2 separate regions of the Homo sapiens genome follow, and region 2 is linked to region 1. Evidence: fine-mapped expression QTL. Tissue or cell type: visceral fat. Region 1 holds a variant in brackets; the other region holds the start of a gene. All regions are shown on one strand. Distances are between the middles of the regions.

The links. PIP is the estimated chance that this variant, and not a neighbour inherited with it, causes the effect.
Region 2: it holds the start of FAM177A1, and the variant in region 1 is fine-mapped to the expression of FAM177A1 in visceral fat (GTEx, PIP above 0.99).

What each region holds. Positions count from the first base shown.
Region 1 is chr14:35,192,171-35,200,276 of GRCh38, forward strand. All of the region lies in intron 5 of PRORP (protein only RNase P catalytic subunit), which reads left to right. The region is part of intron 5 of PRORP-PSMA6 (PRORP-PSMA6 readthrough); the gene reads left to right. Among named protein-coding and RNA genes, the nearest start is that of PRORP, 74 kb to the left of the region's middle. The variant T/G (reference allele first, on the strand shown) is at 3,998.
Region 2 is chr14:35,042,301-35,050,406 of GRCh38, forward strand. FAM177A1 (family with sequence similarity 177 member A1) reads left to right here and starts at 3,972. Exons shown (of 5, transcript NM_173607.5): 1 at 3,972-4,328. The coding sequence starts at 4,164. RefSeq lists enhancers at 3,492-3,691, 4,412-4,681, 4,782-4,841 and a silencer at 3,812-4,161.

The DNA of each region.
Region 1 (8,106 bases):
ATTGTAGGTACACTAGGATTTTTCCTGCCCCTCAAACATGCTGAATTTGTGCCTGCCTCCAAATCTTCGTACTTGCTATTTCTTTAATATTCTTCCATCTTCAAATGGCTGGATTATTATCAGCACCTCAAAGGTCTTTCTTGATTCTTCCAAAGTAACCTCATTCTGCCTAGTCACTTCTGTCTGTATTTTCAGTTACATCAGGATTGCCAAGTCTAGCCCAGGAACTAGAGATGAGTTTCAACATGGCAATGCAAAACTGTCTTTGCCTGGATTGTCTTTTTCAATATCAAGTTCCTTCATAGTAGTTTTTTGTGAAAAGAGACCATGCTGTTGTTGACCATTTATCCTAGAATGATCAGGGAGGGAATTCTAAAAGTCTCCATGACTCATACTTTACACATACCTTTGTAACTTCCATTTCAATAAATTAGGTTTTCTTTTCAGTTATCACTAATAATTGGTGCTGTGAGACCCCCTTGAGGAGGCAGGGACAACATAGTATAATAACTTTCCATTAAGAAAACAAAAGGAGGGGCCGGGCATGGTGGCTCACACCTGTACTGTAATCCCAGCACTTTGGGAGACCAAGGAGGGTGGATCACCTGAGGTCAGGCGTTCAAGACCAGCCTGACCAACACGGCGAAACCCTGTCTCTACTAAAAATACAAAAATTAGCCAGGCATGGTGGCGCGTGCCTGTAATCCCAGCTACTAGGGAGACTGAGGCAGGAGAATCGCTTGAACCCGGGAGCCAGAGGTTGAGTGAGCCTAGATTGTGCCACTACAGTCCAGCCTGGGTGACAGAGTAGAAAAAAAAAAAAAAGAAAAAGGATATGAAGTGGAAAGCTTCTAATGCTGCATTTTCTCTCTCATTCTCTCTTCCCCCACATACCTACCCATAATTCAGTCCTAATGCTTTTGTTCTTTGTTCCTTTTGCAGCTTGCATTTTGGATTTTCAGTGTTCATAAGCTCCTCTAATAGAAGATGTATGGGGGGAAAAGCACATCATTTTAGTTAATCATGCTAGTTCTTCAAAATTCTGCTCCCTATTTCTGTGGATAACTGAGAATTGGTTAAAATGGCTTCAGCAGAATGAAAATTTATAATGTAATTTAAAAGAATTATGGCTGACACCAGCACTGAATGCTTTCATTCTTATAGCATGCTTGGGGCATTGAATAGAAAGTGGTTTGGTGAAAACACTGTAGAATTTGTTTTGATTGCCATCTGTTAGTTGGTTTTACTACAGTGAGAGAAAAATAGAGGCACAAGTATTGGTCATTAAAGGTCATTTGGTAAAGTGTTTACTTGACAGTAAGTTCTTATTTTTTCTGCCACTCAAGTTATTTTATTTCTTTCTGTTGATTTACATAACCTCTTGTAAAAGTTTCAATACCATAAAGCACCTAAGATACAATAAACTATGCTCAGTATTTTTGTGTGTATATAATCCCGGGTGTATTTTTTTTTTTTTTTTGCCCCAACTGTAGAAATGTGAGTTTCTCGATCCCCATGCTTGAAATTATGTTTCAATAACGTTAAAGTGGGAAGGAAACTTAGAAATACCCTATTATGTTTACAATAGGAAATGTTAAATATTGAAGTAGAATTTTTATCATACCTCCTTGACTTTTAAATACTCTTTTCCATATAATTGTTTCTCCCGTTTAAAGACTCTCTCTTAACATCTGGCTTTAGAGGTAGAATGTCTTGTCCCTTATGTCCCAAAACTTGGGTGTCTTATTCACACTTGGGTGTCCTTCTTTGAAGAACATACTGTCTTCATGTCTGCTCTGAGAAGCTGTTTGAGGAATTTTTTTTTCTTTTTCAAATATATATATGAGGAGCAGCATATTAGAGTTTTTATGCATGGATTGAAAGTGGAGGGATGGGATTACTACTAGAGGCAGGTATGCTTACATTAGGGAGAAGAGAGAGACTGCTGTCCAGGTTGAAAGAAAAATGCTGCCATAAGAAGTCAAAAAGTCCTTCACTTCCCTTGTAAGTTGTATTCCTAGGTATTTTACTCTCTTTGTAGCAATTATGAATGAGAGTTCACTCATGATTTGGCTCTCTGTTTGTCTATTATTGGTGTACAAGAATGCAACCCAAATGCTCATCAGTGATAGACTGGATAAAGAAAATGTGGCATATATACACCATGGAATACTATACAGTCATAAAAAAGGATGAGTTCATGTCCTTTGCAGGGACATTGGGAAAGCTGGAAACCATCATTCTCAGCAAACTAACACAGGAACAGAAAACCAAACACCTCATGTCCTCACTCATAAGTACAAGATGAACAGTGAGAACACATGGACACAGGGAGGGGAGCATCACACACCAGGGCCTGTCGGGGGATGAGGGGCTAGGGGAGGGATAGCATTAAGAGAAATACCTAATGTAGATGACGGGTTGGTGGGTGCAGCAAACCACCATGGCACATGTATACCTATGTAACAAACCTGCACGTTTGGCACGTGTATCCCAGAACTTAAAGTATAATTAATTAATTTTTTTTTAAAAAGTCAAAAAGTGCAACCTTCTGGATCCAGCTCAGCCTTCCAGCAAACAGCTCAGTAGCCTCAACAGCCATTACTGTATTAAAGAAAGTAGCATCCAATATATAATCTTCAAAATTATAAAGAAAGTCTTAAACTATGACTAGTATATCCTATTTCAAAAGATAGGCAAATTGTGATTTCTTTTTTGAAAATTTATAATTGTAAAGAAAATCGTAAATTGTAACTATCTGCATAATTAAGAAGGCAAGAAAATCATAATGCTTTTCAGAAAGTTCCTCTCACACATGATTTTGTTTTATTTATCTTGAAATTCATTTATATGAAACTTATATTTGAACAGTGTTCAGATAAATGTGGTATTAGCATATGCAGTGTTTTATTATATAAAATATTTTAATTATAGATATTAGAAAACATTAACTAGGCCATACTCTTTTATGCCATACGTGGGAATGTAAGTTAATTCAGCTTTATGGAGTCTGTTTGGTACTGTATCTATTCAAAATATACAGTGATGTATCAGTTCCACTTTCAGAAATCTGTTCTGCAGAAATATTTGCACAGGTACATAAAGATACATAATTTTCATTGTATCTCTGTAATAGCAAAAAATTGGAAATTATACAGAAGCCAACTGAGTACTGGAGGTGAGTTTACTGACATAGAAAGGTACCCATGATACATGAAAAAGACAAGTTGAAAACAAAATATACAGGATGATCCCATTTTTTGAAAATAAAAAAAAAATTACTGTGTGTGTTTTTATGTATATTCAGGGAAAAAAGCCTGGAAGTAGAAATTCTCCACTGACCAGTCACTTCTTCCTTTATATAGTTATGTATTTTTACAAATACTTTTTCTAGTTCTTTTTAAAAACTCACACATATTTTAAAGATAAGAAACTAAAATAAATCTTTAATGGTATAAACTTAAACACTAATGTTTCTGCTCTTCTGCAGAATATTAATTTTCAAACTTGAGTTTGAGAAACTCAAAAACAAGCAATTTTAGAAGTCAGATAGGTCTTTTAATGATTCTTAGGGTAGAAATCTATTTTTTTAACTATATATGTGAAACTTAGGAAACTGGAACTTAGTTCTAAGAGTGATATACTTCTTTCATTTTCAAAAAAGAAGCTTCTCATGTTTTCATAACCAACAGTTATGTTATCAAGGAGTTACTTTAGTATTATAATAGTTTAAATTACCTAGTTATGACTTTAAGAAACATATGTTAAGGAGTCCAAGGAGAATGTATAAATTGGGAAAAACCTCAGACTTAAAGTAATTATATGTAATATCAAAGCAATGTAATTGTAAGCTTCTCCCTAGGGAATCTGAAATATCCCCCAATAAATATCATCCAAACAAGTCACTGTTAATGTGGATTCTTGGAAGAAGATCTAAAAATAAATAAGTCAATAGAAATTATAAACTTGGGCTGTGAATCTTAAAACAACTAATCAG[T/G]TAGCAGCATTTAAGTGCTATTTCAGGCCAGGCATGGTGGCTCATACCTGTAATCCCAACACTTTGGGAGGCCGAGGTGGGAGGACCACTTGAGCCCAGGAGTTAGAGACCGGCCTGGGCAACATAGTGAGACCCCCCTGCCCCCTGCCATGTCTACGAAAAATAAATTTTTAAAAATAAGCTGGGTATGGTAGCACACACCTGTAGTCCCACCAACTCAGGAGGCTGAGGCGGGGGGAGGATCACTTGAGCCCTGGAGATCTAGGCTGCAGTGAGCCGTGATTGCGCTGATGCACTCCATCCTGGGTAACAGAGTGAGACCCTGTCTCAGAAAATAAATATTTTCATCACATGGGGAAAAGTAAATCTAATCATGACTCCTTAGTTTTAAGGAGTTACTGCTGGGTAGTCAAGGGTGATATAAGTGACTTGAGGAAACAAATTTGCATTAGTGGATGCCAATCCAGAATTCACTAAAGAACACAAAAGAATGGTTCTTGGGTTTTTTTCTTACTATTCATTTTTCATGACATGGCAACTCAGGGAAGTCATATTGCCCTAGGTCAAACAGTGCCAGGCTGACTACTTCCTTTTGTCATGTATCACTTCACCCACTCCTGCCTTGACATGTGTTAAGAGTTATGTTTTGTCATGTGACTGCTGGGATCGTCTGCATCACTCAGAATTATTCTTACCAACTGCTAATGAAGTTAATGATCAACTGTCAGGTGGGTTTTTAGTGAAGTGATCAAGGGCATAACTAGCAAGATGAATGGAGCCAGGCAAAATTTCTATAGTGATTTGGCTTCATAGTCCTTTCTTTTCAAATGTCCCAGAAAGGAACATTCTGCATAGTGTTTGAAACAAGATTTCCCCAATTGTTGTAGAAGTCAAGTGATCCAGTGTCTTTGAACAGCATTAAAAACACTGTGTTGCCAAGCTCCCATATCTTTTCTCTCTCTGGCAAAATCCTAATAGCAAGTTGATTTCCCATCACTGATGTGTCATTGATAATGTCTGTGTGATAACCATTTAGGGTGTGGTGAGATTGTCTCGTGAGTCATTATTGTGTATATCTTGCTTCCATCACAGTGTTTTAAAACACTCTCATTGAGAGTGTGGTAGGAAGAGGCCACTTATGAAAATATAATATCCATTTTAACAAGAAAAGTTTAAATATTTGTTGTCAGTAAGGTAAACAGCAATTGCAGAGTGAGTAGTAAATTTACTTAAACTGTTTATAAAGCTATATAAATTATTCTTACCTAATTATTACAGTGGTAACACTTTAATCATAATTTTCTGGTAATGTTTATTTTAAAACAGCATTTTTTTCCTTTTAAAATTGTTTCTGTTTCACAATTTTCACTAATATAAAGGCTGATTTTTATCCCAGTCAAATACGATTAAGATCAGTTGATTAAGATCAGTTCAGATCTTAGATTTCTTTTGCAGTGATTTAGACATGGCTTTTTTTCTAGATAGTATTAGGAAGGGTATATTGTTCCTTAGAGTATTCACTCTGCCAACTCAAGTGGATACTCCTTATTGGTATATTATTTCTACCCCATTTTGTCTTATGAAAGATGTAAGATGGTTATAATATATGTGATACAGAAAATAAAATAAATTTAAAATAAGTTAAAATAAAGTTAATGTAAAAAGGGTACAAAGGGAAAATAAGCTTAGGGAAATAAAAGGTTTAAGGTTGGTGCACAAAATGCATATGGTGAAGTGCTCTATTAATTTGGCTGTAAATTCTGTCAGCAAACCTGAAGATGATAACATGATCACTTAAGAGCAGGGGCTCATGCTTTTATCTGCTTGCACATCATTTGTAAGTACCTCACATTCTCATCATAAACATTTCTCTTTCCTAAAGAGATTCTCAAAGGAGGTAGGCTAAGAGCAGTAGCAGAAGGGAGAAATCAGAGCTTTGGAGAATGGGGAAATTTGAAGGAACACCCAATTCTGGTATATCTTCCAAAGGAGCTATTTCCACTATAAGACTCATTCATTTATAGGCTTCACATAATTCATAAGATTAAATAGAAACAAATTGTTCAGAGAATGTTCCATTATTCCTAATATTGAAACCAAAGGGATTTTTCCTGTGAACCCTCAGAGGGCAGGGCCATGTGGGCACTCTGAGTACTATTCACAACATTCTTGTTACGAACCGGTGAATGGATTGTGTAAGCATCAGCAGTAAAGGAGTCAGGAGAACAGTGGGTGAGCTTGAGAGAGGCTTCTGAAAGTACTAAACAGGCCTCAATACCTCAGCAATAACTAATGCTAGGAAGTTGGTGAGAAGACTAAATAGGAGGACTCCTGCCCTTTGACTCTTGGAAAATAAATTTTTAAGCTGATTTTTTCACTTCAGATCCATGGTAATCCACAGCAGGGCTAGACCTTGTTTTAAAATTTTATAATTATAATTTCATTTCAGTTCTTTAAAAGTTTGGTTACAAAAAGAAGCATATGTCCCTAATATTACTGCTGTGTAGTAAGCACTCTGAAGAGGTACTTATGTAAGTTCTAGTATCAGAATTGCCTTCGATGTCTGTTAAATAATTATAGTGAGGGCTGGGCGCAGTGGCTCACGCCTGTAATCCCAGCACTTTGGGAGGCTGAGCGGGCAGATCACGAGGTCAAGAGATTGAGACCATCCTGGCCAACATGGTGAAACCCCGTCTCTACTAAAAATACAAAAATTAGGCCGGGCGTGGTGGCTTACGCCTGTAATCCCAGCACTTTGGGAGGCCGAGGCAGGTGGATCACCTGATGTCAGGAGTTTGAGACCAGCCTGACCAACATGGCGAAACCCTGTTTCTACTAAAAATACAAAAAATTAGCTAGGCCTGGTGGCGGGCACCTGTAATCCCAGCTACTCCGGAGGCTGAGGCAGGAGAATTGCTTGAACCCGGGAGGCGGAGGCTGCAGTGAGCCGAAATCGTGCCATTGCACTCCAGCCTGGGCAACAAGAGTGAAACTCCTTTGAAAAAAAAAATACAAAAATTAGCTGGACATGGTGGTGCGTGCCTGTAGTCCCAGCTACTCGGGAGGCTGAGGCAGGAGAATCGCTTGAACCCGGAAGGCGGATGTTGCAGTAAGCCGAGATTGCACCACTGCACTCCAGCCTGGCGAGAGAGTGAGACTCCATCTAAAAAAAAAAAAAAAAAAAAAATTATAGTGAGTACTTGCTATAGTTTGAATGTGTCCACTCCACATTCATGTTGAAACTTAATTCTCAATTTCACAGTATTAAGAAGTGAGGCCTTTAGGAGGTGATTAGGTCATGAGGACTCTGCCCTCGTGGATGGGATTAGCACCCTTATAAAAGGGCTTGAGGGAGTGAGTTCAGCTCTTTTTGTCCTTCTGTTCCTTTTGCCTCACTGTGTGAGGACACAGTGTTCAAGGTGCCATCTTGGAAGCAGAGACCCAAGGTCTTCACCAGATACAGAACCTGCTGGCATCTTGATCTTAGAATTCCTAGCCTCCAGAACTCTGAAGAAACAAATTTCTGTTCTTTATAAATTACCTAGTTTCAGGTGTTTTGTGTGAACAGACTGAGACCGTAGTATTTCTTTAATGTGAAAAAAGAAGCTTGCAAAGTCAACCTGACATCATTTAGTTTAGTCAGTCTTACCTAGACTATAAATAAGTAGAAATTGCTTATGCATGTAAAGTTACAGAATTAATTGAAATGGAAACTTTCCAATTATAATAGGTCTCTCTTTCTCCATGTTATGTTATGAAAGCCTCTGTTATATCAGGAAAACCCCCTGAAAATTTTCTCATCTGTTGAGGAAAGAGATAACAGGTAATCTTATTGGGTTTAAGCTTGGAGGATAAATGGAAACAGCCATTCGTCTTCAAATGAACCAAAATAATCCTGCAAGATAAAAATACAGTATTTTAACAGTATTAATATTTTACCAAAAGAACTTGAAGGTGAAAATCCCAAAAGCCACGACAATTCCATGATTGTGAAAATATTAAGTATGCAAAATTTTTTGTTTGTTTGTTTGTTTTTTTCTTTTGAGACAGAGTCTCACTCTGTTGCCCAGGCTAGAGTGCTGTGGCACGATCTTGGCTCACTGCAACCT
Region 2 (8,106 bases), 150 kb before region 1:
AGGTGGAGGTTGCATTGAGCCAAGATCGTGCCATTGCACTCCAGCTCAGGTGACAGTGCAAGACTCTGTCTAAAAAAAAAAAGGATTATATCTTTATATTTGTTATAGATTCTTATCAGAAGACACTCAGGGTTCTACAGATTTTAGATGAAGATGCACAGCTCTCCAACATTAAAATTACTGAGTCTAGCATAGTGTGCAAAGAAAGCTAGTTATTTTATGCCTAATACCATACAGAAAATTCTAGGCCGGGCATGGTGGCTCACACCCGTAATTCCAGCACTTTGGAAGGCTGAGGCGGGTGGATCACTTGAGGCCAGGAGTTTGAGACCAGCCTGGCCAACATAGTGAAACCCCTTTCTGGGAAAATACAAAAATTAGCTGGGTGTGGTGATGTGTGCCTGTAGTCCCAGCTTGGGACCCGAGGTGGGAGGATGACTTGAGCCTAGGAGATCGAGGCTGCAGTAAACCAAGAGCACGCCACTGCAATCCAGCCTGGCTGACAGAGTGAGACTGTCTCAAAAAAAAAAAAAAGAAAATTTTGGTGATTGGATATCACTGGTATATTCTCACCACACACACACACACACACACAGACACACACACACACAAAATGACCAAATTTTAATTAACAAAACAAAACCTTACATAACATCAAATCTAAAAATTCACTTGGTATTTTCATCTGCTTCTTACATATAGAGCTTTAAAGCTTACTAAAAGACTTTTAAAAAGAAACATACTTTACTCATTTCCATCCCAATCTTTCCAAACAACATACTCACCTTTGGTGTGGAAATTTCTTGCCTTGCTAACACTTACTGGCCTAGTATTTTTTGACATTTTCATTCTCAGTGGGGCGGAATGGCTAAGTGTGTAGGTGGTGGAATCAGAATGCCTGGGTTTTAATCCCAGCTCTGCTGCTTACCAGCTGCGTCACTGGAGCAAGTTGCTTAACTTCTCTTTGTTTCCTCATCTATAACATGTTGGTAGTTACAGTAATACTTCAGAATTGTTGTGAGGAATAAGAGTTAATACAAAGAAAGCAAAGTACCTGGCATATTGTGCTCCATAAGTGAAACCACTACCATGATTTTAATAACTTATTCAGCCTGGGCAACATGGCAAAACCTCATCTCTACAAAAAATATAAAAATTAGCCAGGTGTGATGGTACACGCCAGCTACTCAGGAGGCTGAGGTGGGAGGATCGTCTGAGTCTGCAGTGAGCCATAATTGTGCCACTGCACTCCAGCCTGGGTGATACAGTAAGGCCCTGTCTCAAAAAAAAAAAAAAAATTTCTTTATGCTTAGACTGAACCTAAAATGCATTTTTATTTTTATCATCTTTTTTTCTTGTGCATTATTTTTGATGAAAATATATTGTCCTGTTTGATGGATAACTTAAAAAATTCTCTATCAAAGTATATATATGTAGCTATGTTAAAACCCTAAGAATGTCTTGTTTATTTGATGAACATTCCTGGTTATCAAATTTTATTCAGATTTATTTTCCCAGCCTTACGCAGAAATGGTTCAATCCAAATTTACCTTTTTAGCTCTATATGTATCATTAAATGATAAATTTAGACCACATTATGTTTTCAAGTAGATAAATTATCATAATACTTGAATTTATTTTTGTCATAGTGCTACGATACAATTTATGTTACAAAGTGAAAGAAGGAAAAATTTGGCACATTGCCTTGGTGCCTACTTTTGGTTGAGCTATAACAGTTTGGAAATAATGACAAAAATATAAATGTCCAAAATAAAACCATTAGAATTTCTATGCTTTTATGTTGCTTTGAGTTGTTGATTTGTTTTGTTTTTGTTTTTTTGAGACGGAGTCTCGCTCTGTCGCCCAGGCTGGAGTGCAGTGGCGCGGTCTCGGCTCACTGCAAGCTCCGCCTCCCGGGTTCACGCCATTCTCCTGCCCCAGCCTCCCGAGTAGCTGGGACTACAGGCGCCCGCCACCACGCCCGGCTAATTTTTTGTATTTTATAGTAGAGACGGGGTTTCACCGTGTTAGCCAGGATGGTCTCGATCTCCTGACCTCGTGATCCACCCGCCTCCGCCTCCCAAAGTGCTGGGATTACAGGCGTGAGCCACCGTGCCCAGCCCGAGTTGTTGATTTGTAATAAACTGCTCTTCAATTGGATATTTGTGTTAAAAATAACTTTTTAGGAAATACTTCCAGTTCACGTTAGAATGTAACTTGTACTTTGAATTTTCAGTAAACTAAGAAATACACATGTAAACTGTGAAAATATATTCTGCTTCGGCAATGAAAATTGTAATTTGAGGCCAGGCGTGGTGGCTCACGCCTGTAATCCCAGCACTTTGGGAGGCTGAGGTGGGTGGATCATCTGAGGTCGGAAGTTCGATACTAGCCTGGCCAACATGGTGAAACCCCGTCTCTACTAACAATACAAAAATTAGCCGGGCGTGGTAGTGCACAACTGTAATCCCAGCTACTTGGCAGGCTGAGGTGGGGGAATCGCTTGAACCCGGGAGGCGGATGTTGCAGTGCGCCAAGATTGCGCCATTGCACTCCAGCGTGGGTGAGACCCCATCTCAAAAAAAAAAAAAAAGAAAAAAAAGAAAAAGAAAATTGTAATTTGATATTTAATTGCCACTTTGGAAAATAAAATCATGCATTTATAAATATCCCACAAAGTTTTAGTAATAAAGATTGTTGATTGCCCTGCTTGCCAGTAAGAAGGAAGAGATTTTGAATACATATAATGCAGAACTGTGTTGTTTATGAATGCCAATTCATGAAGTCTTAACAATTGGTTCTTTATTTTTGTTTTCAATTTATGGCCGAGTTTGGTTTTGCTGTTTTGGACTGTCTCAACTCCCTGCTGATGCCACCATACAGAGTCAGATCAGGTACTAACTTGTTTACTTCAGCAGCAACCTAACTTGATTTTATTACCAGGATAGAGAGCAATATGGATTTCCAACTAGTTTTTAAGGCGTAGATGGTTTTCAAATGATTATTTGTTTTTTAAAGTTTTTGGTTTTGTTTTTAGGTTCCAGTTATACATAGAATAGGAAGTGTACAATAACATTAGGCAGAGGGTAAGGAGAAGAACTTTGGCACAGAAGAGAAAGGAATATTTAATATTTGGGCCTGCTGTTGCTATGATGAAAAACATTTACAAGGTCATACAACTTTAGGGAGCATTTCTGAATTGAGACTAGTATGAAAATGGAATTTAAAGTATCAAATGAAGCCTCCCATAGCCAAAATAATGTATGTTTTGGTTTTGCCCCCTACATATTTGTGAAAACTTTCATGCTAAAACAACAATATACCATTTACCTGCAGAACCTCAGACTTGTTTGATGTTGAAGTCATGCAGTAATTGCATGATTTTTTACTTTCGTTGAACATTGCGAAAGACGGAAAAAATCTGGGACGCCCCCTCTAACATACGCACACGACTTTAAGACACAGATAAAACATTCCTTACATTTGTCAAGATGGAAGCTTACTACTGCCCTTTGCTCTCCTTCAGGTCTTTTCACTTAACACTTTCTACAGTTATACTTAAGTATTTCAGACAAGAGTAAGCAAATATCACGCCTGGGGTTCTTCTTTCGAGGGTATTTTGGCTGGACTGTCACCCACGTTTGGAATGGAAAGTGCAGCACGAGCCGTACATTTTACATTTTTCAGCAACCACATCCCATCACTAGCCTTTGAAGTACAACGACACAGCTGTCTTCATTTTACAAGTGCAAAAACCGAGGTCCTGCGGGGTGACTGCCCCAGACGCCGCTGGTGACGGGCTGCGCCGAGGTCGAGACGCCAGGCTTCAGGTACACGTACCAGAAATGACGTCACAGGCGGTGCCAGGCGGGGATCCACGAGCTCTGGATGCTTGCTTGGCCGGAAGCGACGCCCCGCAAGGACCCGCCCCGCCCCGCCCCGCCCCGCGCGAGCCGGTAGTTGCGCCTCCCAGACTGCAGTTGGCCAGCTCTCGGGGTGCGGAGCCCGGCGGGCTAGGCGAGGCGCGGGCTGGCCCCGCCCCTCAGGCCGGCGAGTCCCCTTCTCAGAGACTTGGCTAGGCGCGGCGCGAGGCGGGCGCTGGGCGGGTGAGTCCCACTTCCCGACAGCCTGGCTCGGCCAGCGACTGGGCGGGGAGACCAAGGATGGAAGTGGGCTTACCGGCCATTACCCTCTTTCTCACCAGCGCCAGCAGCCCTGTGGTGGCGACGACGATGGACCAGGAGCCAGTGGGCGGTGTGGAACGAGGAGAAGCCGTCGCAGCCTCGGGAGCTGCGGCCGCCGCGGCATTCGGGGAATCTGCAGGGCAGGTAGGTGGGGCCGCCGAGGCTGACGTCCGGGGAGCCGAGCCGCCTCCTTGCCTTCTCCGCGGGCCGCTCTTTTAGCCTGCGCGGCCGTCCTCCGAGCAGGCCGCCCCAGCTTTGGAGTTCCTCCTCACTGCACCCCTGTTTCTGCTCACTGAGACCAGCTTGTGGGAAGGAGCGCCCCCCGCCTCACTCACCAACCCCTTGGCTGGCAGCACAGCAGACTCTGGGGCGGCCTCGGGTTCCTGGGGTGATAGTCCAGCTTCTGGTCTACCAGAGGAAGAAGAAAGGCGTGTCCCCCAAAGGCTGTCCTTGCAGTAGCTGGAAGCCAGGTGAGGGCGGCTTCAACCACTTCTCAGTCTCTTCTGGTGCGAGCGCCTGCCTGGGCATCTGCCCTTTGCTTGGCATATGCCAAACGTTTACCAGCTTTAATTCACTGGATCCTTACAGTAACCGCTCGAGGTGGGTGTTAGCCCCATTTCACCGCCGAGGCAACTAAGGCTCCGAGCTGCGCTGTCCAACATAAATAGAATGCAAGCTGCATTGAAAATTGTAATTTAAAATTTTCCAGTAGGCACGTTTTAAAAAAGTGAAACCGATATTAATTTTAATAGCATATCTTATTTAACCTAATTTATCAAAACAATTTCAACCTAAAATTACTATGAAAGTTATTAATGAAGTATTTGCATTCTCTTTTGGAGTCTTTTCTAAGTCTTTTAAATCCTGGGTGCATTTTACACGCATAGCATATCGCAGTTCTGGCTGACCACATTTCAAGTGCGCATTAGCCACATGTGGCTAGTGGTTACTGTATTGGACAGCGCTGGTTTAGAGAGTTAACGTTTCTTGCAACTTTTCAGTATTAGACAAAAAGACACTTTGGGAGGCCAAGGCGGGTGGATCACCTGAGGTCAGGAGTTCAAGACCAGTCTGGCCAACATGGTGAAACCCCTTCTCTACTAAAAATACAAAAATTAGCTGGGCGTGGTGGCGCTCGCCTGTAGTCCCAGCTACTCGGGAGGCTGAGGCAGGAGAATTGCTTGAACCCTGGAGGTGGAGGTTGCAGTGAGCCGAGATCACGCCACTGCACTCCAGGCTGGAGACAGAGCGAGACTCCGTCTCAAAACAGCAACAACAACAACAACAACAACAACAACAAAAAAAAAACCCTTGAGTTGCTCATGTATGTAACTCTTCCCATCCTCCATGAGAATGAAGCTTTTTCAGTAGCTTCATTTTTGAGACTAAGTACCTGAATGTTAGTAAGACATTTCCCCCAAACTGTGAGTATATCTCTGTGTATCTCTTATAGTATAAGATGTCGTTTGCATTAACAAAAGCTTATCCAGCCTGGGCAACAGAGCAAGAACCCATCTCTTAAATAAAAAACTAAAGAAACCCCAAAAACAAAAAACACAACTTTCCCACATACCAAACTCTATATGGAATACGTTTTTTCCCTCCTACTTAAGAAGGGGATTCAGGGGACAACATGAATTGATAAGGAAGCCACGTCATTTTCAGTTGAGTTGAGACCTATTGTTGGCAAGTGCACTTACACTTAACCTTTGAGTCCATGGTGCTTGATATGTTTTTCAATTTGATTTTTCCTGTTGTTACTAGAATTGTTTTTTTAAAATCACTACCTCCGCCCTGGATCTAATAGCAAAGTAAACACACGTGTACTTATATACCAGCTAAATGTTGTTTGAAGTGAGAGGCTCTTTGATTGGGGTTAGTGATATTCTGTTGTTTTCACATTCTTGGTTAACAAATAAGTACTTAACCAGTAAAGAAGGCTGTAGAACAAAAGATAAAAATTCACAGGAATACCCCACCACCACCCTTTCTTCATGTTCTCATTCCCCAAAGGTAACTATTAAGTTTTGGTGTAGTCTCTCTGGAATTTTATCATTCAATATTATATATTTCTTATATATTATATATATTATTAAATATTAAATATCTCTTCTTTCTTGTTAAACACCAATGAGTTCCATTTTCTGATTTGCCCTTTGTGCTTTCAGATTCACATTCCTGAATCAGAAACATCTTTGGGAACTCCAGTTCTATGCCCAGGGGGTTGAGCACAGTAACAGGGAAGTGGACATCTCAGGAGATGGAGAGGCCTCTATCTTACACTTCTTCCCAAGTTTGGCAGAACTGAGAAATCCCTAGTGCAATGTAGGGAAAGGGAGTAAGAGATAGGAGATAGGGTCTAGAATTAGGCCTCCAAACAGGCCATCCAGTACCTGTTGTGACATTCTTTTTTTTTTTTTTTTTAAGACGGAGTCTCACTCTGTGGCCCAGGCTGGAGTGCAGTGGCATGATCTTGGCTCACTGCAACCTCCACCTCCCGGGTTCACGCAATTCTCTTGCCTCAGCCTCCTGAGTAGCTAGGACTACAGGCGCACGCAACCACATCTGGCTAATTTTTGTATTTTTAGTAGAGGTGGGGTTTCACCATCTTGGTCAGGCTGGTCTTGAAGTCCTGACCTTGTGATCCACCTGCTGCCTTGGCCTCCCAAAGTGCTGGGATTACAGGTGTGAGCCACCGCACCCGGCCTCCTGTTGTGACATTCTATCCAGCAGCTTCTCTGAATAGACTTTTAACCAGAATCTCAGCCTCAATGTTTTTAAAGGAGTTAAAATTTCAGTACCACTCAGTGATTGATTTATTTGGTACCTCTGTTACCAAGCACTTACTATGTGCCAGGAACTCTAGGCTGAAAGATATAGCAGTACCTACCCCCATGTTGCTAATAGCCTAGTTGGGGAAGATGACAAAGAATAAATTCTAAGTCTAGTATGTGTTTTAAAGAAGTCTGGGTGCCATGGGAGTATATACAAAAAATTGCCATTAAAACCAGATCCTGAGCTGGGCAGAGTGGCTCACACCTATAATCCCAGCACTTTGGAAGGCTGAGGCCAGTGGATCACTTGAGGTCAGGAGTTCGAGACCAGCCTGGCCAACGTGATGAAACCCTCATCTCTACTAAAAATAGAAAAATTAGCTGGGCATTATGGCTCACGCCTGTAGTCCCAGCTACTCGGGAGGCTGAGGCAGGAGAATCGCTGAAACCCAGGAGGTAGAGGTTGCAGTGAGCCAAGATCGCACCACTGCATTCCAGCCTGGATGACAGAGCAAGACTCCTTTTCAAAAAAGAAAAAAACAGATCCTGAGAATAAAGATAAGCACATTTATAGTTTGGTTAACTATAAAATGGAGTAAAATGTTAATTGACATGGTACCTCATAATTTCCTGGTGTTATGAAACTATCTTTCAGATCTTTGGGGTTCGTTATGGAATTTGCATAATTGGCAGTGAAATTTTTCTTACTTGCAGATTTATAAAATGAAGCATTTGGAAAATTCACAGTGTAACTTTTTTTGTTTTTTGAGACAGAATCTCACTCTGTTGCCCAGGCTGAAGTTCATGGCGCGATCTCGGCTCGCTGCAACCTCCACCTCCCGGGTTCAAGCAATTCTCCTGCCTCAGCCTCCTGTGTAGCTGGGATTATAGGCACGCTCCACCGCGCCTGGCTAATTTTTGTATTTTTTTAGTAGAGGTGGGATTTCACCATGTTAGCCAGGGTGGTCTCACACCCTTGACCTCAAGTTGTCTGCCCGCCTCAGTCTCCCAAAGTGCTGGGGTTACAAGCATGAGCCACCATGCCCAGCCACAGTGTAAATTTTATTTGTAATTATTGGATTTCTGGTTCAAGTTGATGTTTGAAAAATAAAAAAAGAAAAATATTTTAAAAATATAATTATTGGGAA